3 separate regions of the Homo sapiens genome follow, and regions 1 and 3 are each linked to region 2. The links come from fine-mapping of genetic effects on gene expression. A gene starts in region 2. Each other region holds a variant in brackets. All regions are shown on one strand. Distances are from middle to middle. Region 1 holds the start of ACOT8 (acyl-CoA thioesterase 8). Region 2 holds the start of CTSA (cathepsin A). Region 3 holds the start of WFDC10B (WAP four-disulfide core domain 10B).

The links. PIP is the estimated chance that this variant, and not a neighbour inherited with it, causes the effect.
Region 1: its variant is fine-mapped to the expression of CTSA in whole blood (TOPMed, PIP 0.97).
Region 3: its variant is fine-mapped to the expression of CTSA in whole blood (TOPMed, PIP above 0.99).

What each region holds. Positions count from the first base shown.
Region 1 is chr20:45,850,124-45,858,299 of GRCh38, forward strand. It overlaps ACOT8 (acyl-CoA thioesterase 8), which reads right to left and starts at 7,269. Exons shown (of 6, transcript NM_005469.4): 1 at 7,065-7,269; 2 at 5,036-5,169. The coding sequence starts at 7,192. ZSWIM3 (zinc finger SWIM-type containing 3) reads left to right here and starts at 7,491. Exons shown (of 2, transcript NM_080752.4): 1 at 7,491-7,857. The coding sequence starts at 7,703. RefSeq lists enhancers at 3,543-4,072, 4,073-4,602, 4,603-5,132. The variant GT/G (reference allele first, on the strand shown) is at 3,897.
Region 2 is chr20:45,887,721-45,895,862 of GRCh38, forward strand. It overlaps CTSA (cathepsin A), which reads left to right and starts at 3,615. Exons shown (of 15, transcript NM_000308.4): 1 at 3,615-3,659; 2 at 3,849-4,042; 3 at 4,196-4,307; 4 at 4,553-4,603; 5 at 4,678-4,764; 6 at 5,005-5,160; 7 at 5,500-5,591; 8 at 6,268-6,352; 9 at 6,930-7,021; 10 at 7,103-7,181; 11 at 7,274-7,413. The coding sequence starts at 3,849. NEURL2 (neuralized E3 ubiquitin protein ligase 2) reads right to left here and starts at 3,488. Exons shown (of 2, transcript NM_080749.4): 1 at 2,530-3,488; 2 at 914-1,153. The coding sequence starts at 3,271. The coding sequence ends at 1,038. It also overlaps a transcript of SPATA25 not described here. RefSeq lists enhancers at 2,953-3,662, 3,902-3,951 and a silencer at 3,592-3,861.
Region 3 is chr20:45,704,253-45,712,428 of GRCh38, forward strand. It overlaps WFDC10B (WAP four-disulfide core domain 10B), which reads right to left and starts at 767. Exons shown (of 4, transcript NM_172006.2): 1 at 666-767; 2 at 245-309. WFDC13 (WAP four-disulfide core domain 13) reads left to right here. Exons shown (of 4, transcript NM_172005.2): 2 at 192-342; 3 at 1,611-1,675; 4 at 3,606-4,565. The coding sequence ends at 1,653. It overlaps MIR3617 (microRNA 3617), which reads right to left and starts at 928; the gene lies at 850-928. The variant T/C (reference allele first, on the strand shown) is at 3,965.

The DNA.
Region 1 (8,176 bases), 38 kb before region 2:
TGCTTGAAGCTGGGAGGTGGAGGCTATGGCAGGAGAACTGCTTGAACCTGGGAGGTGGAGGCTGCAGTGAGCCGAAATTGCACCACTGCACTCCAGCCTGGGGAACAAGAGTGAAACTCTGTCTCAAAAAAGAGTGGGACATCCTATGTGATTGGTTAGGAGTACATATTTGGCTTTCTCCGGTTGGTCCTAAGTTGGAAGCAGGGGCAAAAATTAGGGCAGCTATCAGTTATTAATCAAGTCCTGGCTTTGGAGGCCAATTGTTACAGTGGTCATTATTTGGCTTGCTGGACTGGTTGGTAAAGATAGTGGTCTGACTTCCTACAAGTCTGACTTGTGGATAGTAGGCTGGCTTCCTGTGCTGGTTGCTGCTATTGTGCGTCAGAGTTCTGTTTTTCTACATGGTCTAGCCATTGTCTGTTTGTATATTCAGCCTCTCCCAGGCAAGGGCCACTGTCAGTCACTTCACCCCTGATGTATATGGAAGCCATTTGGTCCTTCACTGTCAGGTGTCTCTGCTCCAAAGCAGAGTGGAAGAGCCTAGGCAACACAGGGAGACCCTGTTTCTACAAAAAATAAAAAATAAAAATTAGCTGGACATGGTGGCATGTGCCTATAGTCCCAGCTAATCAAGAGGCTGAGGCGGAAGGATCACTTGAGGCCAGGAGATCAAGGCTGCAGTGAGCCATGACTGCGTCACTGTGCTCCAGCCTAGGTGACAGAGCAAGACCTTGTCTCAAAAACAACAAGACCACCACCACCAGAGTAGAAGGCACTGGCCAGGGATAAGGCAGCCAACAACAAGCAGGTGAGGGAAGATTTGGAGAGGAAGAGAACTTCCCTGGTTTCCCTGAAGTTCTCACTTTGTCTGAGTCAGGCTGACCTTGAGGAACCCTGACATCTGGGCCATGAGACATCTTGGGGATGACTTTCAACCTTCAGATGAAAGAAGCAGGTCTAGAGAAGTGTTGCTTCCTTCACTCTGATCCAAATGGGGAGTCAACCAGGCACCAGGGCTCAATCAACAGCAATAAACATCACTGTCTGAGGTCAACTGGCTTGCTCAGCTCTCTGTTATCAGGCACTGCCACCAGCAGCACTTCTATCAGAGTGCGAGCTCCTCAAGGTTAAAGGCATTTGAGAAGGGCTTACCAAGAGTCCAGACACTAGACAAAGTTACTTGTGCAGTCTGCTTTCAGACACTGGGAATGAAGTCTTCCTCCCTACCACCAAACTTGGGGGGAAAAAACAAAAAAAAACCTCTAATCCAATCCTTGGTCTGCAGGTAAGCTAAAGTGCAGATTCCTGAGGAGGATCACAGAAACTTCAGTACTCTGGTCTACCTTTCAGTGTGAATGAGTTCCAGCCCTATTCTTGAAAATTGTTATTGGAACAGAGCAGGTAGGCCCTGAGGCATATTGAAGGGAGTTAATGATTATGGAGTGATGCAGGGTGCCTGACAGCATTGGACAGGAGGGTATGTTTTCTCATGTTGGTCTCACAATAACTATGTAGAGCCACTCTTACCCCCATTGTACAGATGAGGAAACTGTTGCCTTAAAATACAATTTTTTTGTAATAAAGTCATGCTAATTTGTTTACATATTGTCTATAGTTGCTTTCACTGGCAAAACCTAAAATGTTTACTATCTGGCCCTTTCTAGAATGTTTGCTGACCTTGTTCTGAATTCTTCAAGCTCTAAATTTACCTCTGTAGAGAAAAACTAAAAACAAAACAAAAACCCAACTAATTCACATTCTTTCCTGGGCTTTTAGAAAAAGAACTGATTTGATAAATGGCCAAGGACCAACCCTCCCCCTCCCCCATAACATCTTTTATTTTTAAAATGTAATTGAAACATCTCTTTTTTGTTTTGTTTTTTTGAGATGGAGTCTCGATCTGTCGCCCAGGTGGGAGTGCAGTGGCGCAGTTTTAGCTCACTGCGACCTCCAGCCGCCGGGTTCAAGCAATTCTCCTTGCCTCAGCCTCAGCCTCAGCCTCCCGAGTAGCTGGGATCACGGGCTAAGGTCACCACGCCCAGCTAATTTTCCTTTTTTTTTTTAGATGGAGTCTTGCTCTGTCACCCAGGCTGGAGTACAGTAGCACGATCTCAGCTCACTGCAACCTCCACCTCCAGGGTTCAAGCGATTCTCCTGACTCAGCCTCCTGAGTAGCTAGGACTACAGGTGTGCACCACCACACCTGGCTAATTTTTGTGTGTGTTTTTTTTTTTTAGTAGAGATGGAGTTTCGCCACATTGTCCAGGCTGGTCTCGAACTCTTGACCTCAGCCGATCTGCCCGCCTCGGCCTCCCAAAGTCCTGGGATTACAGGCATAAGCCACATGCCCAGCCAAAAAACAGCATTGGTTTTAATATCTGATATAGCTGGCAGAGTCACACCACAAACAGATAAGAGCTCTCCCCTTTTTGCCTTGCAGCCAGGAAGCTCAGAACTAAACCTTGTATGAAACTGCAACAATATGGCTTAGCCAAATTTTTTGACATGATCGCTTCTCCCAAATCCCATTACTACTGGCCTAATGTCCTTTGACTTTTAATATTCCCATAATAACTACCAATTATTTTAGCTATCTTGCAGCCTTTCAAGACACAAGCAAGGGCACAAATAATTATTTTTATTTATTTATTTATTTTTGATGGAGACAAGAGTCTCGCTCTGTCGCCCAGGCTGGAGTACAGTAGCATGATCTCAGCTCACTGCAACCTCCGCCTCCTGAGTTCAAGCAATTCTCCTACCTCAGCCTCCTGAGTAGCTGGGACTACAGGCACATGCCGCCATGCCTGGCTAATTTTTAGTATTTTAGTAGAGACTGGGTTTCACCATGTTGCCCAGGCTGGTCTCGAACTCCTGAGCTCAGGTGATCCGCCCGCCTCGGCTTCCCAAAGTGCTAGGATTACAGGCATGAGCCACCACGCCCGGCCAAATAATTATTTATTTTGAAATGGTGGCTTGGACACAGCTCATTTCACGCTGCTCCTGGATGAAGACTTTCCAAGAAAGAGGATCTTTTCCCCAGAACCTGGGATGGGTACCCTGGCAGCTCTCTCATTGTTTAGAATTATTGCCCAAGAGCGAAGCAAAGAAGCAGGAAAGAGTTTGGCACTCAAAGACACATAAACCAGGTTCAAATCCTGGCTCTGCCTCCTTGGGCACTGTGGGAGCTGGTTCCAAACCTCTTCAGGTCCCAGTTTCCTTAGGTAAGAATGATGGCAGGAATGCCTGCCACCCATGTTTACTTATGAAGACTAAACAAGATAATGCACACAACTATGCTCTGTATCATGCAAATTTTAATTATTCCCATAAGTTAATCATCAAAAACTAATAATATTTATGGAAAACTAGATTATGCCAAGCCCTGCACTAGATACTTTACTGGCAAAGACTCATTGAATTCTTCCATCACAGGATGAAGAGATTCAGAGTTCAAGTAATGCCCCCACCCACACAAAAGAAAACAGCCAGGTATTTCACTAGGCTGGAAGGATTACAATATCAAAAGGCTGGTACTTACAAACAAATTAAAGAAACAAAGCACATATTTACTCCCAACTAGCATAAAGATAAGAACCTGGCTGAGCCCAAGGTAAGTATTCAAATACTTTATAGCAGTGACTGGGGGCCGAGAAGAGGGGGGCCAATCAATACTCCTCAGGGATGAGGAGTAAGAGACACGGGACAGTATGAAAAAGTGTATTTACCATTACAGGGATAACTTTCATATTTACAAAATGAAGGGGGAAACCCCATGGTTTTCTTAATACAAATCACATACTGTAAAGGTCCACAAACTCTTCTCAGCTGGGGATCTACGCAGAACACATGAGGGCATCTGCTCTGGGGGTAACAGGGAAGGAAAGAAAACAGTGAGG[GT/G]TTTTTTTGTTTGTTTTTTAGCATAGGTTTTGCTTTTATTTTCCTTTTATTTATTTTTTTGTAGAGACAAGGTCTCGATTTATTGCCCTGGCTGGTCTTGAATTCCTGGGTTCCAACAATTCTCCGCATTGGCCTCCCAATGTGCGGGGATTATAGGCATGAGCCACCACACATAGGTTTTTTGTTTTTGAGACAGAGTCTCGCTCTGTTGCCCAGGCTGGAGTGCTCGCCCAGGCTGGAGTGCAGTGGCACGATCTTGGCTCACTGCAAGCTCCGCCTTCCGGGTTCACACCATTCTCCTGCCTCAGCCTCCCGAGTAGCTGGGACTACAGGCACCCACCACCACACCTGGCTAATTTTTTTATATTTTTAGTAGAGACGGGGTTTCACCGTGTTAGCTAGGATGGTCCCGATCTCCTGACCTCGTGATCCGCCCGCCTTGGCCTCCAAAGTGCTGGGATTACAGGCGTGAGCCACCGCGCCCGGCCTCACACATAGGTTTTAAGTTACATTATCTGACCCCAGAGCTGTAAGAAGCTGTAGAGATCATCCCACTAAAATACCCTTGGTCCCACCCTTCTCCATTTTACAGCTGAAGTAAACCAAACTGTAGGGCGGGGAGGTAACCTCACAAGGCTGCATGGTAAATTATGGACAAAACTGAAGCTAGGCCCTACATCTTTGGTTTGTTTTTATTGACCCTATGCTCAGTTGACAAAAGAAGCCTTAGATCCCTTGACTCTCAGGCTGGTGCTCTCTTCTCCAACCCAAGCTGCCCTACCTCCACACCTCTAGCACAGAGGTCACAGCACACTGAGAACCTAGCACAGCGCTCCGCACCAGGAGCTATGTTAAGAATGGAAGAACAAAAGCCCACAAGGAGCAGTTAAGCAACAAAGTCTTGTGTCATTATCAGCCAGACATCAGGTACCCAGTGAGTCCCAGCAGGTGTGAGGTCCAAGGCTCATTGTTAGCCCCAGACCTCGTTCCACCCTAGACACCTCTTAGGGTGGTAGTGTCCGCCACCCCTCCCCTTGTCTTCCAGTCTCCCTCTCTTCCCTTTTGACCTCAGCCCCCAAGGCCAGAAATGGCTGCTGGGCCACCAGGGTTGGGTTGGGGCAGGAAGTGGGGGGTTTACCTGCCCGAACAAAGTAGCAGTGCAGGGAGTGCACGTGGACGTCTTCACTCACAGACTTGGCTGCAGCCACCAGGGCCTGGCCCACGATCTGACCACCAAACAGCCTCTTGGCCGGTACCCAGTAATGCCTTCCTCTGTAGGGAGAGGGGGAAAGAGGGAAAGACTTGGGAACTGGGCCAAATTCTACTACCCTCACTAAGACTCTAATGCATGATCTCTTCACCATATTGGGGTTTAAGATCCTTTTGAGAATATGGTAAAAGCCATAGGTCCTTTCCCCAGGCAAATATCCTTATGCATAAAAATCCTCTGGGCCGGGCGCAGTGGCTTACATCTGTAATCCCAGCACTTTGGGAGGCCGAGGCAGGTGGATCATTTGAGATCAGGAGTTCAAGAGCAGCCTGGCCAACATGGTGAAACTCCATCTCTACTAAAAATACAAAAATTAGCTGGACGTGGTGGCATGCACCTGTAATCCCAGCTACTCAGGAGGCTGAGGCAGGAGAATCACTTGAACCCAGGAGGCAGAGGTTGAGGTGAGCCAAGATCGCACCACTGCACTCCAGCCTGGGTGACAGAGCAAGACTCCATCTCAAAAAATAAAATTAAATAAATGTATAAATGAATAAATAACAAGAGCCCTCAGACATCAAGTCTAACTCCTTCAGTGTACAGATGAGAAAACTGCAGCTTGGCCCCAGAGATGAAAATGCTTGCCCAGAATGTAGGCCCATTGGAAGCTGAATAATTATGTCTCTAGCCTCCCACGTCCCAGCTGTTTGGCATTTTCTGTAACAATGAGTTATGAACAGCCCTCCATGACCTGGCAGGTGGCTCTCGCCTGTAATCAATCCCAGCACTTTGGGAAGCCGAGGTGGGAGGATCGCCTGAGCCCATGAGTTCAAAACCAGCCTGGGCTCCAAAGTGGGGCCTCATGTCTACTAAAAATAAAAAAGTTAGCTGGATGTGGTGGCAAGCGCTTATGGTCCCAGCTAAACGGGAGACTGAGGCAGAAGGGTCACTTGGGCCCAGGAGGTCGAGGTTGCAGTGAGCCATGTTCGTGCCACTGCACTCCAGCCTGGACAACAGGGCCAGATCTTGTCTTCAAAAACAAAAATCAAATAGCCCTCCAAGAAGTTATTTACAATTCCTTAAGTGGAAGGAAGGGAGCTCAAAGTAAGATAACTTCCAGTAAAGCCAGGAGAAGCCTTGGAGGTCAAAGCTGTTAGAAGCCTTGCTGCAGGGGGCTGGGCGCGGTGGCTCATGCCTGTAATCCTAGCACTTTGGCAGAGGTGGGCAGATTACAAGGTCAGGAGTTCGAGACCAGCCTGGCCAACACGGTGAAACCCCGTCTCTACTAAAAGAAGTTAAAAAATTAGCTGGGCTGTGGCGCGCCTGTATGTCCCAGCTAATCAGGAGGCTGAGGCAGGAGAAATGCTTGAACCCGGGAGGCGGAGGTTGCACTGAGCCGAGATCGCACCACTGCACTCCAGCCTGGGCAACAGAGCAAGACTCCGCCTCAAAGAAAGAAAGAAACCCTTGCTGCAGTCAAGAACTTCAGCGATGCTGGGAAAGAAAAAAACATGCTTAGGCCTCAGAATAAGTAATGAGAAACCAGACCCACCAAATGGTACTGGGGGCGGGATATTGTGAGAAGAAAAGGATACTGAAGACACAAGGAGCTGCGGCGTCGGTTTTAAGGCTGATCCATCAGCTGTGTGCCCTTGGGCAAATCACTGCCCTCTCTGGGCTAGCTCCCCCGTGAAGGCTTAGGGCAGGCTGCCGAGCAGGGTCTCTCAGGTCACCACTATATTTGCTCAGCTGTGCAGACCTCGCAGCGCGGAGAGGAAGGGAGGAAGCCAGAGCAGAGAGGACAGCTCTGTTGGGGGCGAGTTCTCTCCTAATCGTGGCAGAGGGTGCATCCCACGCAGAGCCATACTAGTCCCGGAGCCAGGGGCCCCGGGCGGCGGCAGTCAAGATCAAGTTTCTGCCCTAAAGGAGGGGATGCTGGGCAGGAGCTGCCGGCTACCTGAAGAGATCCTCGTCCAGCGGCTCGAGGTTGAGCACGGTCGTGACCAAGACGCTACGGAGGTCCCCAGGGGGATCGCCGCGGTCGCCACAGCCCTGCCCATCTTCTGGGGCCTGCGGGGACGACATCTAGTTCAATGCTGCAGGCCCTGCACACCCGCTCCGCGGAAGACGCGGAGACATACACAGAACCTGACTCTTCCGGCAGATTGCCCTAGTAACCGGAAGTCTCCTGCAGACCCCGGGAAGGAGGAATCTAGGTTATGATTGGTCAGGACTCCTGTCAGTCCGCTGGTGGCTGTGGCCCTCTTTCTCTAGCAATTGGAGAAAATGAATGCCAATCTGCGAATCCTGTGTGTGACTGGATATGTCGCTGAGGAGGCGGAACCTCGGGACTGGATAATATGGACTGAGTGTCATTTCCCCTGTCAGATAGCAAATACACCCCCTTCCTCTTGTAACCCGGTCAGGCCTAGGGTTCCTCCCTGAGTTCCAGAATAGGCCACCCAGTTGGGGCGGACCCTTAAGGCATTCTGGGCCCACGCCTGCCTATAAACCCTCATAGTGTGACCTTTGACCCCTGGTGTGATCTTGGGCCCGGGCTGGGACCAGCCCCTAGTGTGGGTTGTGGGGGCGGCCATGGAGCTGGGCAGCTGCTTCAAGACCTATGAGGACTTCAAGGAGTGCTTCAGCGCCTACAAAAGGGAGAACAGGTGCTCCTTCATTCTCAGGGACTGCGTCTCCGTCCGCTTCCACAACCTCAACCATGGCACCTCCATCCGCGAAGACATCCTGTAAGGGCGGGCGGGGCGGGGCGGGCCAAGAGGGTGGGGAGGAGGCTGGACCTCCGGAGGGCTGCCTGGAGGAGGAGGGGTGCATAGGCACGCATTGGGCTGCGTGGCCATTCATTCAACAGGCACTCATTGAGCACCTGCTGTGTGCCTTGTGAAGAGAGCTAAGCCTCCACGGCCATTGGTTTTTGACCACCCACTCCACTTTCACTCCATTCACAGGCTTTTCTGGAATTTATAACTGCAGTTTCTCCCATTGTTTTGAGCAGCTGCAGCAACCCAAATACAAAGTATGGCTTTCATAAACGGATAAAAACACCTT
Region 2 (8,142 bases):
TTCATTCTAGAACCTGGACATGACAATAGGATGAGGTTAAAAGAGCACCAGACCAGGAGCTGGGTGTTCTAGGTTCTTGCCCTAACCTTGAACGAGTCACCCAGATAGTTTTGTTCCTTGATATCCTTATCTGTAAAGTGTGTCTGATGACTGCCCACTACCTCATTAGGAGTTTTGAGGATGAAATGAGATCATTTGTATGGAAGCAGATGACCAGAGATGGAAACACAGGAGCCAAGTGCTTCGTGCCTTGTAGAGTAAGACTTCGGGTCAGACCCAGTATTGGTATTTTTCTTTTTCTTTTTTTGAGACAGAGTCTCACTTTGTCGCCATGACTGGAAGGCTGGAGTGCAGGAGCAAGACCTCAGCTCACTGCAACCTCTGCCTCCTGGGTTCATGCAATTCTCCTGCCTCAGCCTCCCGAGTAGCTGGGACTACAGGAACCTGCCACCACACCTGGCTAACTTTTGTATTTTTAGTAGAGACAGGGTTTCACCATGTTGGCCAGGCTGGTCTCAAACTCCTGACCTCAAGTGATCTGCCCACCTCGGCCTCCCAAAGTGCTGGGATTACAGGCCAGGTATTGGTATTTTTCAAAATTCCTCAAGTGATTATAATATATGACAAAGTTGGAACCTTTTTTCTAGGGACATACTTCTCAACCCTGGCTGTACATGAGAATCTCTTGAGAAGCTTTTACAAAACACAATGTCTAGGCCTAATTTCCCAACAAATCAAATACGAATCCCTAGGGATGGGATGTGGGACACCAGCACTCTTTACATATCCTAAGATGACTCTAACAAGCAGCCAGCCTAGGGACCCCTGCTCTTTTGCTCCGACCTGCTGACCTGCAGTGATTCTAAACGAAGTGACTCTCATAGGCTGTAGGGGCAAGGAGACCTTCCAGTGATCAAGATGTCAGCATCGGCTGTTTATTTCTGGTCTTGGCTGGCAGCAATGTGGCCAACTTCGGACCAGCCAGCCACAGGTCTGGGGCTCCAGGATGCAGCTGTGCTCTGGTGCACTGTGGGTCTTCACTCATACTTGCAGAAATCCTTAAGTTCTTTGGGCAGGTGGAGCCCATCAATGGCCAGCCGGTGCACCATGCTCCTTTGTATCACTAGGCGGCACAGAGTCTGCAGGGATGGCACTGTGGGAAGAAGACTGTGAAAGGCAAACTGAACTGGAGGGTGGGTCTGAGGCCAAGATCCAGAAGGTCTAGGTCATGGTCCCCACTTTGTCATTAAATGTGGGCAAGTCCTTACTGCTCTCTGGGCCCAGCCTGCTTCATGGGGCTGAGAGAAGCACCTCTTCCTGAGAGCTGCCACAAAGCTGCAGCCCTGTTTATATCATAACACTTAGCACAATCCCTTCCCCATTCACTTAGCAGCTTCTGGGGGCAGGGGTAGTGTCTGATTTGCCTGTGCAACTGAAGCCTCCAGCACAGGCCTGGCACAAAGAGGGTTCTGGTGCATTGAGTTCATGAAATGTGATGAGAGGTATAACTGCAATGCTTACCAGGGCTATAATGAATCATACTCAGCATTAAGAAGCTCTCAGTCTGGGGTTTGTTATGCCTCGAAGCCAATAGCCAATATGCCCAAGTCTATGAGCATGTTTCTTTCTTTTCTTTCTTTTTTTTTTTTTATTTAAAGAGAGAGGGTCTTGCTCTGTCACCCAGGCTGAAGTGCAGTGCTCAGTGAACTGCAGCCTTCAATTCTTGGGCTCAAGCGATCCTCCTGCCTTAGCCTCCCAAATAGCTGGGACTACAGGCATGCACCACCATGCCCAGATAATTATTTAATTTTTTGTACAGATGGGGTCTCACTTTGTTGCCCAGGCTTGAGCTAGCTAGCTTGCTTGCTTGCTTGCTTTCTCTCTCTTCCTCTCTCTCTCTCTTTCTTTTTTTTTTCAGAGTCTTGCTCTGTTGCCTAGGCTGGAGTGCACTGGTGAGATCTCGGCTCATTGCAACCTCCACCTCTCGGGTTCAAGTGACTCTCCTGCCTCAGCCTTCTGAATAGCTGGGATTATTGGCACATGCCACCACACCCAGCTACTTTTTGTATTTTTAGTAGAGACAGGCTTTCACCATGTTGGCCAGGCTGGTCTCGAACTCCTGGCCTCAAGTGATCTGCCTGCCTCCCCCTCCCAAAGTGCTGGGATTACAGGTGTGAGCCACTGTGCCCGGCCAAGCATGTTTCTAAGAAAAGGGCAAACAATTCTCAAAGAGGCCCCTAATATCTAAAATTGGTTTAGAATCCCTGCCCTAGGTGAATACAGGAAACACTATCAAAACTAAAAGGGAACTTGTAGGGCATCTTAATCAATCAACCAAGATAGGTACCAAGGCCCAAAACCATGTAGAGGCTTGTGCAAGATCACAAGCAGAGGTGCAATTTGAAGCTAGATTCTCCCACTCTTAAACTAGTGCCGGACAGACGAAGGCCTAGCACATGGGCTACGGAGCCCTAGTAGATTCCAGTCCCCACACTGAGCCAGGAGGGGTCGCTGCCCAGGGATACCTACAGCCATACTCGAGCTGGACAAGGCGCACGCTCTTTGTGGAAGCAAACACGTCCACCACCGCGTAGAGGGGCTGCGCAGCTGGCAGTCCCCGGGCGCTCGGGCCCATGTCCTCGCCGTTGATGATGATGTGCATGTCGGCCGTGCCATCGGGGCGCGGGCAAAAGAGGACACCCAGGCGGCTACGGCGCGCGGTCGGAGGCAGCACGTTCAGCTCATAGAGCTGGTCCAAGAGATGGCTGTAGAGCCCTGGCCGGCTGCGGCCCACCAGGCGGTCCCGGGGAATGCGAAACTGCTCAATGCGCAGATATGGTTCCACGAGGAGGGTTGGAGGTCGGCTGGGGGCCGCTGCCTCCGCCTCCGGGCGGCCCTCCCGGGGCACGCGGTTGTGGTGGCGCGTGATGGCGAAGACCCAGGTGTGGCCCAGGTTGACCAGATCGGGCAGAGAAAACTCGGGAACGGGGGCCAGACTGGCGGGGTCCAGCGCGGTCAGACCGAGACGCAGATGTCCGCACCAGCCCAGCTCTTTCTCCTCGATCTCGACCAGGAAGACCTGGCCCGGGGCCAGCGGCTCGCGGCTGAAGCACACGCCGTGGGCGAAGCTCTCCACGCGTGTGGCCCGCGTCCCAGAGGGGTCCACGCGGATGTTGGCACCGTGCACCCGATGGAAGCGGGTGGGAGGGGGCTCCGGGCGCTCGAGTCCCCAGAGTGCACCCGAATCCACGGGCTCGGAGGCAGCAGCCATCTCTCGGCCATAGGGCAGGCCAGCTGGCGCCGGGGGCTATTTTGGGCGGCGGGCAATGATGGTGACCGCAAGGCGACCTTGTAAGGCATTTCCCCCCTGACTCCCTTCCCCGAGCCTCTGCCCGGGGGTCCTAGCGCCGCTTTCTCAGCCATCCCGCCTACAACTTAGCCGTCCACAACAGGATCATCTGATCGCGTGCGCCCGGGCTACGATCTGCGAGGCCCGCGGACCTTGACCCGGCATTGACCGCCACCGCCCCCCAGGTCCGTAGGGACCAAAGAAGGGGCGGGAGGAAGACTGTCACGTGGCGCCGGAGTTCACGTGACTCGTACACATGACTTCCAGTCCCCGGGCGCCTCCTGGAGAGCAAGGACGCGGGGGAGCAGAGGTGAGCTGGCACCGGAGGCTGGAGGGGATCCCCGAGCCCGGGATCGGTGCGCGGCAGAGGAGGCTCGCGGGTGGGAGCTGGCGCTGGGGCCGGGGCTTCCCTCGCGGAGGCGCCGCCAGCAACTCCCCGGGGGCTGCTGCACGGAAGCGCTGAGGAGCGAGTCAACAGCCCCTCTGCTGCCTCCCGTAGATGATCCGAGCCGCGCCGCCGCCGCTGTTCCTGCTGCTGCTGCTGCTGCTGCTGCTAGTGTCCTGGGCGTCCCGAGGCGAGGCAGCCCCCGACCAGGACGAGATCCAGCGCCTCCCCGGGCTGGCCAAGCAGCCGTCTTTCCGCCAGTACTCCGGCTACCTCAAAGGCTCCGGCTCCAAGCACCTCCACTACTGGTCTGCCGCCCTGCCTTCTGGGCGGGATTGGGAGAAGAGATGACGGATGAGGGATGGGGGGTAGTTCTGCAGACCCCTGAGGATGCCTGGGAGCCGGGAGGGCTGGAAAGGGCCCCTCCAACTGCGCCAACCCTGCCCTGACCCCCCTCCCAGGTTTGTGGAGTCCCAGAAGGATCCCGAGAACAGCCCTGTGGTGCTTTGGCTCAATGGGGGTCCCGGCTGCAGCTCACTAGATGGGCTCCTCACAGAGCATGGCCCCTTCCTGGTGAGTGGACAGCAGGGGGAAAGCACAGTTCCCAAAGTAAAAGGCTGGGGAAAGCGAGAGAGGGGCTTTGTGATTTTCCAAAAAGTTTCCTTCCTTCTAAGCCTCGGGATTTTCCTCTATGCCATTGGCTTTGCTGCCTGTACCTCTCAGAGGTTTTACCCACATGTAAAGTGCCTCTCATGGTGGCCCTTTCCCTCCACCCAGCTGGCCCTTGGGACTTACTCAGCCATCTCTTTCCTCCTCAGGTCCAGCCAGATGGTGTCACCCTGGAGTACAACCCCTATTCTTGGAATCTGGTATAGCTGGAGCTGTGGGTGTGTCTGGGCACTTGGATGGGGTGGCATTTAGCTAATTTTTCCCTCCCCTCTAGATTGCCAATGTGTTATACCTGGAGTCCCCAGCTGGGGTGGGCTTCTCCTACTCCGATGACAAGTTTTATGCAACTAATGACACTGAGGTGAGTCTGGTGCCTGCCCATCTGCCCCAGGCTCCCCGGTCCTCCATCCATGGCATGATGCTGGGAGAGAGAGCATGGCCTTGGAGTCTACTTTTCGCTCTGTCATATGCTATTGTGGTATGGTGGCCAGTCACTTCCTCTTGCACAAATAGGGTGGGTTAATGTCATTATCTCTGAAGTTCTTTCCAGTTCAAATACCAAAGCTTCCTGATTCCCTCTGTCTTGCTCTGCCATCCCCAGGTCGCCCAGAGCAATTTTGAGGCCCTTCAAGATTTCTTCCGCCTCTTTCCGGAGTACAAGAACAACAAACTTTTCCTGACCGGGGAGAGCTATGCTGGCATCTACATCCCCACCCTGGCCGTGCTGGTCATGCAGGATCCCAGCATGAACCTTCAGGTGCAGGGTAGCTGCAGGAGGGAAGGGAGGTAGCTTGAGGCTGTGGCCTTACAGTTAGCAAGGTCAGACTGACTGGTCAATGTCCCCATCCAACCCAGCTTCCTGCATAACCTCCCCACCACCGGCTGCCCTAGGTCTGTCTGTGTGCCTCCCACACAGGAAACTCACCTGTCAGGCTGCCAGCTCTGTGTTTTGCATTGAGTGGCCTCTCATACCCACCGGCCTACATAAACCACCCTGGGTTTCAGCTTCCGGATTGCTGAAGGTCTGGGTGGTAGGGTGAGGGAGGCTCTTCCTTTTTGCCCTCCACATGAGCTGAGCACCCTGGGTGTTTCACAGGGGCTGGCTGTGGGCAATGGACTCTCCTCCTATGAGCAGAATGACAACTCCCTGGTCTACTTTGCCTACTACCATGGCCTTCTGGGGAACAGGTATGGGATAGGGCAGTTGGGCAATCTCTGGGGTGAGGCAGGTCACATGATCTCAGGTCTGTCCTCCAGGCACATGATATGACAGGCCCAGCCCAGGTTTATGAGCAGCAGGTGGGTTGCAGAAAGAACCTAGTGCTGAAAGGCCAAAGAATAGAGATCAGTTTTTCTTTCTTTCTTTTTTTTTTTTTTGAGACAGATTCTTACTTTGTCACCCAGGCTGGAGTGCAGTGGCACGATCTTAGCTCACTGCAACCTCCACCTCCCAGGTTCAAGCAATTCTCATGCCTCAGACTCCCAGGCAGCTGGGACTACAGGCGCGTACCACCACACCTGCCTAATTTTTTGTATTTTTAGTAGAGATGGGGTTTTGCTGTGTTGGCCAGGCTGGACTTGAACTCCTGGCCTCAAATGATCTTCCCAAAGTGCTGGGATTACAGGCATGAGCTACAGCGCCCAGCCAGAAATCAGATTTTAAAGGAACTAAGGAGGCCTGTCTGTATGACCCTGGGGCACCTCTTTGGGAGCTAGCTTAGATGACATACAGACCACACCCTGTGATATCTTTCCCAGTCTCCTAGGGTCAGGGAGGTTGGTGGGAGGTGGGGGGTATGCTCGCCTCCTCTGCCTTCCTCTTCCCACCAGCAGCTGATGCGCTTTTCACTCTCATCTCCTACAGGCTTTGGTCTTCTCTCCAGACCCACTGCTGCTCTCAAAACAAGTGTAACTTCTATGACAACAAAGACCTGGAATGCGTGACCAATGTGAGGTTCTGCCATCACTTTGCATGAGCTCTCCCATCCCTAATCCTGAGAACAGGACCACATTCCCTCCTTGGGGACTCCTTGTTCTCCGTCCCTCATTGCTTTCTTGCACCTTTAAGCAATTTAGTGTTCTCTGGGACATGTGTCTAAGTGTGTATTCCCACCACCACCTCCTATGGTGGCAAATCCCATAACCTCCGTGAGGAGAAAGGACTTCTTCACATTTATCAAACACCTGCAACGTGGCAGGCACTGTGCTGAACTGTGTCTATGTAGATTATTTAAGCTTCAAGATTCCCCCTCAAATGAGATCATACTACCCACATTTTCCAGATAAGGAAACTGAGGGCTATGAATTTTGAAATCACTGTCTGAAGTCACAGTGTTGGGAGGCAGTGATGCTAGGATTTGGACCCAGGTCTGGGAAGATTCCTGCCACTGAGCCTCAGTTTCCCTACCTGTGAAAAAAAGTGGGTGAAGAGGTGAAATCCAAGAGCAGTAAATCTTGGGACAACTTGGTGGGGTCGTGGAGAGGCTGGGGATCTGTAAAGCATGGTGGCTTGGTGTATCATTGCAGCTTCAGGAAGTGGCCCGCATCGTGGGCAACTCTGGCCTCAACATCTACAATCTCTATGCCCCGTGTGCTGGAGGGGTGCCCAGCCATTTTAGGTAGGTGCTGCTGGGTGCCCCTGGAGCCAACCCCAGCCCCATCTGGAGGCTCCACACCCATTCCCCCACCTCACATTGCAGGTATGAGAAGGACACTGTTGTGGTCCAGGATTTGGGCAACATCTTCACTCGCCTGCCACTCAAGCGGATGTGGCATCAGGTGTGCGAGGGCGTGGGCTTCCTCCTGGTGAGGTGGGGGCAGGGGGAGGGGCAGGGAAGCAGAGGCCCTGACCCACTGTCTGTGCCTTCCAGGCACTGCTGCGCTCAGGGGATAAAGTGCGCATGGACCCCCCCTGCACCAACACAACAGCTGCTTCCACCTACCTCAACAACCCGTACGTGCGGAAGGCCCTCAACATCCCGGAGCAGCTGCCACAATGGGACATGTGCAAGTGAGGTTCCGTGGCCACCTGTGACTTGGGGTGGTGGGTTGCTGGGGCTTGTGGGCATCGGCAGGTTTCTCAGGGATCTTCTGTGTAGAGTTTCTCAATGAGATGAGCTGTAGAGGATGTTTAACATCCATCCCTGACCCCTCAGTGGATTGAGAGTCAGCCAATTCATTCTTTTATCTTTTTTAAATTTAAAATTTTTTTGTTTGAGACAAGGTCTCACTCTGTCACCTAGGCTGGAGTGCAGTGGTGTGATCATAGCTCACTGCAGCCTCAAACTCATGGGCTCAAGCAATCCTCCCACCTCCCCAGTAGCTGGGACTACAGACGCACCACCACCCCCAACAAGTTTTTGTATTTTTTGTACAGATGGTGTTTTACCACATTGCTCAGGCTGGTTTTGAACTCTGGGGCTCAAGTGATCTGCCCATTTCAGCCTCCCAAAGTACTGGGATTACAGGCATGAGCCACCCCGCCCAGCCCCATTTCATTACGTAGCCACATTGGTTGTTGTTTCACAGTTCACTACAGCCTCAACCTCCTAGGCTCAAGCGATCCTCCCACCTTAGTCTACTGAGTAGCTGGGTCTACAGGCACATGCCACCATTCCTGGCTAATTTTTAAAAAATTTTTTTGTAGAGACAGGGTCTCACTATGTTGTCCAGGTTGGTCTCAAACTCTTGGTCTCAAGCAATCCTCCCTCCTTGGCCTCCCAAAGTGCTGGGATTACAG
Region 3 (8,176 bases), 180 kb before region 2:
CCATGCCCTGCTTCCCTGCTCAGAACTCAGAGGAAGGCAGCAGCTGAGGACAAAACCTGATGCCACCACCCTGGAACCATGCAAGGCAGATGAGGGTGGCAGGTTTCCTGGCAGTTCCCTGGGCTTTCTGAGTTCTGAACATTACTCCAGCCTGTTGGTGAGGCCCTTCTCTTACTTGTTCTGTGTTCCAGAGTATATCTTGGAACCTCCACCCTGCATATCAGCACCTGAAAACTGTACTCACCTGTGTACAATGCAGGAAGATTGCGAGAAAGGATTTCAGTGCTGTTCCTCCTTCTGTGGGATAGTCTGTTCATCAGAAACATTTCAAAAGCGCAACAGGTAAGAGATATCTCATATCCAGGTCTGATCCTAGAGCTGCTGGTGGGAGCCCAGCAGAAGAGTCCCTTACCAGCAACTGTGCTGGATCTCTCCTTTTTTTTTTTTTTCCTTGGTGGCCATGTTGCCAACATGCCCCTTCTCTTGACCAAGGATAATTTCCATAAAAGTCCTGATTAGAAAAGCCCTCCTCCCCTCCCAATCACCACATCCCATCACCATATCCGTGAATTTCTGACTCTGCCTCTCTGAACACACCCACAAATGCCTTTATCCACAGACCTTCCCCCGACCCAGAATCCACCCTTATCCCAGGGACACTGTACCTGCAGGTGTAACCAAAATCCCAAAGCAAAATTTGTCCTACACTTTTGCTTGCCCTCCTTTCACAAGACACCATCCTTTGGCCACCAGTGTTCTTGGGCTCTGGAGATCCAGCCCAAAGGAAGTTTTGATTAATTGTCCAGACATTAACACTAGCCGCAAGCCTGCTAAATGGAGTGTGCTCCCAGGGCAGAGAAAGGACATAGGGTGCTGATGAGACATATGGTTTCTAATCCCATCTTGCAACTATGTCTTTCTATGACCTTGAGTAAGACAATTCCCTCTTTTTTACTTTCTTTTTCTCATGAGTAAAATAAGTACTCTTGTTTTTTCCTGCTTTGCAAGGCCCATATGAAATTTCAAAAGACTCACAGTGGAAGACTCAACCAATGAGCCCTTTGAGGGAAGCCTGGCAGTCTTGTTCCCTGCTGTATTCCCTACCATGAGCAGAATACCCAGCATGAGATAATGTGCAGAGTGATTAAGCATGGGCTCAAAGCCAAACACCTGGGCTCAAATCCTGGCTTCTTAGCTAAGTGACCTTAAGTGATCTTAGACAAGCTAATTAACCTCTCTCTGGGCATCAACTTCCTCATCCTTAAGACTGGAACAATAATAGTGAGGTTAAAATAGACAATCCATGTAAGCTTTAAAACATTACTTGCCAACATAATTGCTGTGAATTTTGGGGATTAGGCAACCACTTCTCTTTGAAGAGACTAGCCCTTGCAATTAAATTCCACATCTTTCAATGCTCTACATTGGAATGCAGAAGCATAAATATAACTCTTTGGTGTCATTGAGTTTTTTGAGGTTCTGCCTTCCCTATGGCAAGAGAAATGAGCTTCATGGTCTAATATTAATGGTGGAAGTAATTGAAAGAAAAATATATATCTCTAAAAGTAAAACTTCACTAGTTAATATTTGAAAATATTTTTCTTCTACAGAATCAAACACAAGGGCTCAGAAGTCATCATGCCTGCCAACTGAGGCATATTTCCTAGATCATTTTGTAAGTACAGGGATTTGGTCTCGCCTTCCTCATGTGAGATTCCCAGGGATGCTCACTTTCTTCCTGTAGCCTCACCAGGGGCACTACATTCCCACAAGCTCAGAATGGCCTCTCATTACCTGATTGCCTCCTCCTCCATCATTCCCCTCCAAGGGCTATCTTTGCACTCCCTGGGGGAGGCACGGTGCAGTCCAGCATGAATTCTGCAACACAGAGCAATGTAAGGAACCAAGTCATGGCCCAGGGGGAACCCAGGGCACTCAGATCTGAGGCTTTGTCAAGGAACAAGCTCTTCTAGCCTCCGGGTTGACAGCACCCTGGGCAGGGACTCAAGCTGAGCCCTTCACGCTCTGAGACTTTGGTCTGCTCACTGTACCTCTCTGAGACAGTCACCTCCCTCATGTGAAATATGAAGAAAACATCCATGCCTTGGGGTATTGGGAGGACAACACAAGGCCATGTAGATGGAAGAACTTGGTCTCTGCAAAGGTAGAAACTGCCAGCAACTCACTTACAAGGTCACTCATTCAGGTTCCAGTTTTTTCTCTGAAAAAAGAGGGAGTGGGCCGGGTATGGTGACTCACACCTGTAACCCCAGCACTTTCGGAGGCCAAGGTGGACGGATCACGAGGTCAGGAGTTCAAGACCAGCCTGACCAACAGAGTGAAACCCTGTCTCTACTAAAAATACAAAAATTAGTTGGGTGTGATGGTGCACACCTGGAATCCCAGCTACTCAGGAGGCTGAAGCAGGAGAATTGCTTGAACCCAGGAGGCAGAGGTTGCAGTGAGCCAAGAGTGCACCATTGCACTCCAGCCTGGGCGACAGAGTGAGACTCCGTCTCAAAAAAAAAAAAAGAGGGAGTGGGAATCATCTTTATTATTTTACTGATGCTTCAAGAATGGTGAACAAAATGGAGTCCTGTGGAATTCCACCACCAAAAAAATGATAGTATTCATAAGTTGGTGGATTTCGTTTCAGAGTATTTGAAAGAAAAAGTTAGAAGTTTAGGGTCTTCTAATGGGCCTTCTGATGTCTCCAGATGTTCCAAATTAGAATGGTGGTCTTTCAGCTTAGTCCTTTTATTAACCCTGTACAAAGGAGCGTGATAAATAGTAGCAGGTGGAGGCCAGTGGAGCAGTTTAGACGCATGAGCACTTGCCCAGGCTCCGGTGAGCCCACCATGCTGCGGATGAGCTCCCACTCATGCTTCAAGGTTTCTATTAAATTAAACACTCCATAGAAACTTCACCAGTTCACTCCAGACAGAATTAGTCCCTCTCTTTGTCTTTTGTAGTGTCCTATCTTTGGCCTACCATAACCTAGTGACCCCTGATCCAGGGCAGGAAATACTGTTCAGAAAAATCTATAGACTCTTTTACTACCAGAAACTGACCATATGTGGTTCGAGTTGACCTGAGTGAGGCAGGTCTCTTACATACAGGTTGGCTATCACTGTTTTAATAATCTGAGTTTGATCTATCCAATACTGTAGGCACTGGTCACGAGAGGCTATTTAAATGTTAATTCATATGAATTACAATAAAATAAAATATTCAATCAGTTCCTTAGCCTTATTTTCCATTTCAAGTGTTTAATAACCACATGTGGTTAGTAGCTACCATATTACACATTATAAATACAGAACACAGAAAGTTCTAATGGAAAGCATTGCTTTAAGCTACATAAAGCTGATGTCTAAAAAATGATGGCTAATTAAAGGTGATCATGACAGAGGACACCCTCTATGACAGCCTCATGTTAGACTCCAGGAAAAGTTTTTGGGGGCTATTTCTTTAAGGAGTTCCTAAGCATAGCCTGACAACAGACAGTTCAATGACAGTAATTCTCTAGAGACCCAACATGATGTCCAAGGATGTTTAAAGAATCAAGAAGAATAAATGGACTAATTATCTTTCCTTCCCCACAGGCCTCTACGATGTTTTTTCTTGGTCCACCTTTAGGAAGGTATTGAGAAGCAAGAAACTGGAGGCCCAATATCTAACCTGCAAATCGTTTTTGAGTTTGGCAATAAAGGCTAATCTACCATAAAACTCTTGAAGCTTAAGCTTTAGGTCAACACTTGCAAGAGCCCCTTCCAAAGCTCAGCACAGTTTCCTCCTGGGATGAGGAGAGGAATCAGAAACCCCACTTTGGCATAGAGACAAGCAGCACTGTTCCAGTCCAGGGATGCTGTGTGTGCCCTGGTGGTGGTCTTAAGGACCTACCACATCAACATCTGGACAACCCTCACTGATTACCTGCCCTTGGTTGCACTCATCAGGCTAA[T/C]TGATCCCATATTTAACCTCAAGGAGAAATATCAACCAGACACTGCATGGCAACCTCCTTGGGGCCAGCCTTCAAGGCTTCATGGCCATATCATGAACCCAGGACAGGCACAGTGGGGGTGGTGAGGACCTGATAGAGTTGGATCAGTGACTAAGAGGCTGCAATAAGGTGCCATGAAATCAAAATCAAAGGGCTAGAACTCTCCAAGGTCTTGCCCCCGGCATGTAGCACCACCTGAGCCAGAAACTGCAGAGGACATGACAGTGTGGCATTACTGATAAGTTATGGAAATGGAAATAATCTTTCCTAAACTACCAATAATAACTTTAAATTTTTGATCAACCATGCTAGAGCAAAGATTGAATTATCCTTCTGTTCTCTCTACAGAAATGATATAAAAACTATAGTCATAAGAAGAGACAATCAAAAATAATCAGCCATAAAATATTAAAAAGGTATTATAAAGGTATTTAAAATAATAATAATAAAGTGTTATTTTCCTGGGATTCATGATATTTGATATATTCGTAAGCTTTTGTTAAGTTTGTAATTTGTTGCAATTTCTTTTTCATTTCAAATAAATATTCACTTACGTGTCTAATTTTGTATTAGTAGTTCTGCATTATTTTTCTAAAACAAGGTATCCATAATTATACAAGCATCAAGCTCCACAAAGCCTGGGCCTTTCTCTGCTTGCCTCCATTCCTTCCAACTCTGTACCAGTGAGCCTTGTGTTCCTCATTAGGAAAACAGCATAAGCAATTGTTCTTCATTTTCACAAGACTGTACAAAAAGATTAAACAATATAATATGCATAAAAATATGTTGTACGCACTGTGACAGAAATATGAATGGTTATGATTATTGTTAACATTTTGAGGACTTACTGCAAAGGGTGAGATATAAGGAATGGCATTAAGGAAGAAGAAAAATGGATTTTCACCCCTTCATCAGTGAATATAATCTATACACCATGACTTCTCACTTAACCATAGTTGTGCTACTATGGCACATCATCTAAATTCTTCAAAACTTGAATTTTTCATGCTTAAAATAGAGATAACACCACTTACCTTACGTAATTTGTGATACTAAGTTCTTGATTGTAGTCTGGTGGTTGGGAGGCTTAATTAAATAACCAGTAACTCAGCAGTATCAACTTGCTTTGAAGGGAACATGGCTGGACTGGAAAGTACCTGACACACAACCACACAGGACAGGCTGACCCTCCAGGATGAAATCTTGAAGGGATGTTTCAGCCAATCATGAGTTTATTTAGTTTATTAAGAACAAGTGACAGGCATGGGGAATCTTGGAAAAGATGCTCTAATAGATAGGTCCAACTCTTCCCCAGGGGAGTGAATAAAGATGAAAAGCTAAGAGACAAGAATTTGGCCACAATGAAGCCAGAATAAAACTGTTCAAAAAATAACAATGCTTATGGATATCTTGCAAATTCTTGCTGGGAGTTCTCTTCTCAGTCCATCCCAGCAGAGATGGTGAAAGATCAGTAGTTCAGTAGGGGCTATACCAAGTCAATAAGGATACTTGGGAGACACAATGAAAAAAGAGTCACTTTTTCTTGCTGTCACCTGGGAAGAAGATAAATATGAAGACTATGGCCCTTTGGAGAGCACTCTTGTACTCTGTCACTGCCTCCTATAAGTGCTTAGTCAACAATCCAACATAATTTTAGGTTTGCTGGGAAAGGTGGGTTTGGCTGTGTTAGGAATGGAATTTACAATTTTGAAGGTGAAATCTTGTTTGTTCATGGGTTCTGCTTCCCAGCCTTGCAGCCAAGACTCGTATACAACTTTTGAGGACAAAACTTTAATTCATTTCTATATACCCAACATTGAGAATAGTTACTGAAATATAGCAGGAGCTCAATAAGTAAGTACCTTTTAATGAGATGAGAAAGGATAAAATGCTAAAATATTGAGGCAGGGGAATTGCTTGAATCCAGGGGGTGGATGTTGCAGTGAGCCGAGATCATGCTACTTCACTCCAGCCTGGATGAAAGAGTAAAACTTTGTCTCCAAAAGAAAAAAAAAGAAAGAAAGAAAGAAAAAGCACTTGAGAAAAATTCAACATTTTTTTCATAATAAAAGCTCTCAACGAATTAGGTATACAAGCCACGTATCTCTATATAACAAAGGCCATGTATAACAAGCCCATAGCTAACATCATACTCAATGATGAAAAGCTGAAAGCTTTGCCTCTAAGATCAGGAATAAGACAAGGATGCCTACTCTCACCGCTTCTATTCAACAAAATACTTGAAATCCTATCCAGAAAGATTAGGCAAGAAGAACAAATAAAAGGCATCCAACAGGAAATTTTCCAATAGGAAAATTGTCTCTGTTTACAGATAGCATCTTATGTATACAAAACTCTAAAGACTTGATAACAAAAATAACTGTTAGAATTAATAAATTCAATAAAAGTGCAGGATAAAATCATCAATATACAAAAATTAGTTGAATTTCTCTACACTAACTACAAACTATCCATAAAAGAAATCAAGAAAAATAATCCCATTTACAATAGCATCAAAAAGAATAAAATAGGAGTAAATATAACCAAAGAGGTGAAGGATCTGTACACTAAAAACTATAGAATATTGATAAAAGAAAGTATAGATGACACACAAAAAATGAAAAGATATCCCATGTTCATGAGTTGGAGAAATTAATATTGTTAAAATGTTCATAATGCTTAAATTACTCCACAGATTCAATGCAATCTCTAACAAAATTCCAAAGATATTTTCACAGAAATAGAAAAAACAATCCTAAAATTCATGTGAGCCACAAAAGACACTGAATAGCTAAAGAAATTCTGAGCAAAAAGGACAAAGCTGGAAGCATCACACGTCATGATTTTAAACTATATTGCAAACTACAGTAATCCAAACAGTATGGTACTAGCATAAAAACAGACACATATGGCAACGAAACAGAATAGAGAGCCCAGAATTAAACCCTTGCACGTACAGTCAACTAACTTCCAACAAAGGCACCAAGAATATACAATGGGGAAAGGATAATCTCTTCATTAAATGATGTTAGGAAAACTTACACCATACACAAAAATCAATTCAAAATGGACTAAAGACTTAAACATAAGACCTGAAACTGTAAAACTCTTAGAAGAAAACATAGGGACAAAGTTCCATTGGTCTGGACAATGATTTTTTTTTATTTGAAACCAAAAGCACAAGAAACAAAAACACAAATAAGGGAGACCACATTTTCTGCACAGCAAAGGAAACAATCAACAAAATGAAAATGCAACCTATGGAATGGAGAAAATCTTTGTAAAAAATACATTTGATAACAGTTAATATGCAAAATATATAAAGAACTCCTACAACTCAATAACAAAAAATAAAAAATAAAAAAATAGTAAAAGTCCCCAAACAGACATTTTTTCAAAGACATACAAATGGCCAACAAGTCTATGAAAAGATGTTCAACATCATTAATCATTATGAAAATGCAAATCAAAACCACATGAGCTATGACATCACACCTGCCAGGTGCCTATTATCAAAACAAAAGATAAGTGTTGGCAAGGATATGGAGAAAAGGAAACCCTTGCACACCATTAGTGGGAATTCAAAATGGTGCAGCCACTATGCAAAACAGAGTGAATGTTCCTTTTAAAATTAAAAATTGAACTACCATGTGATCCACTAATCCCACTTTTGAATATTTATTCAAAATTACTGAAATCAGGATCTCAAAGAGATATTAACACTTAGCACCTCTATGTTCATTGCAGCACTAGTCACAACAGCCAAGATGTGAAAACAATCTTATGTACGTTGACAGATGAAGACATTTTTTTGAAATGTAGTATATGCATACAATGGAATACTATTCAGCCTTTTAAAAAAAGGAAATTCTGCAATATGTCACAACATAGATGAACCTTGAGGACATTATGCCAAGTGAAAAAAGCCAGTCACAGGAAGATAAATACTTCACGACTCCACTTATATGAAGTATCTAAAATAGTCAAATTTATAGAATCAATAGTGGAACAGTGGTTGCCAGGGCCTGGGTGGAGGTGAAATGGATAATTAGTAATTAACAGGCATAAAGTTTCAGTCAAGCAAAAGAAATAAGCTCTAGGGATCTAGTATACAACACTGTACCTATAGTCAACAAAAACGTATCATACACTTAAAAATATGTTAAAACAGTA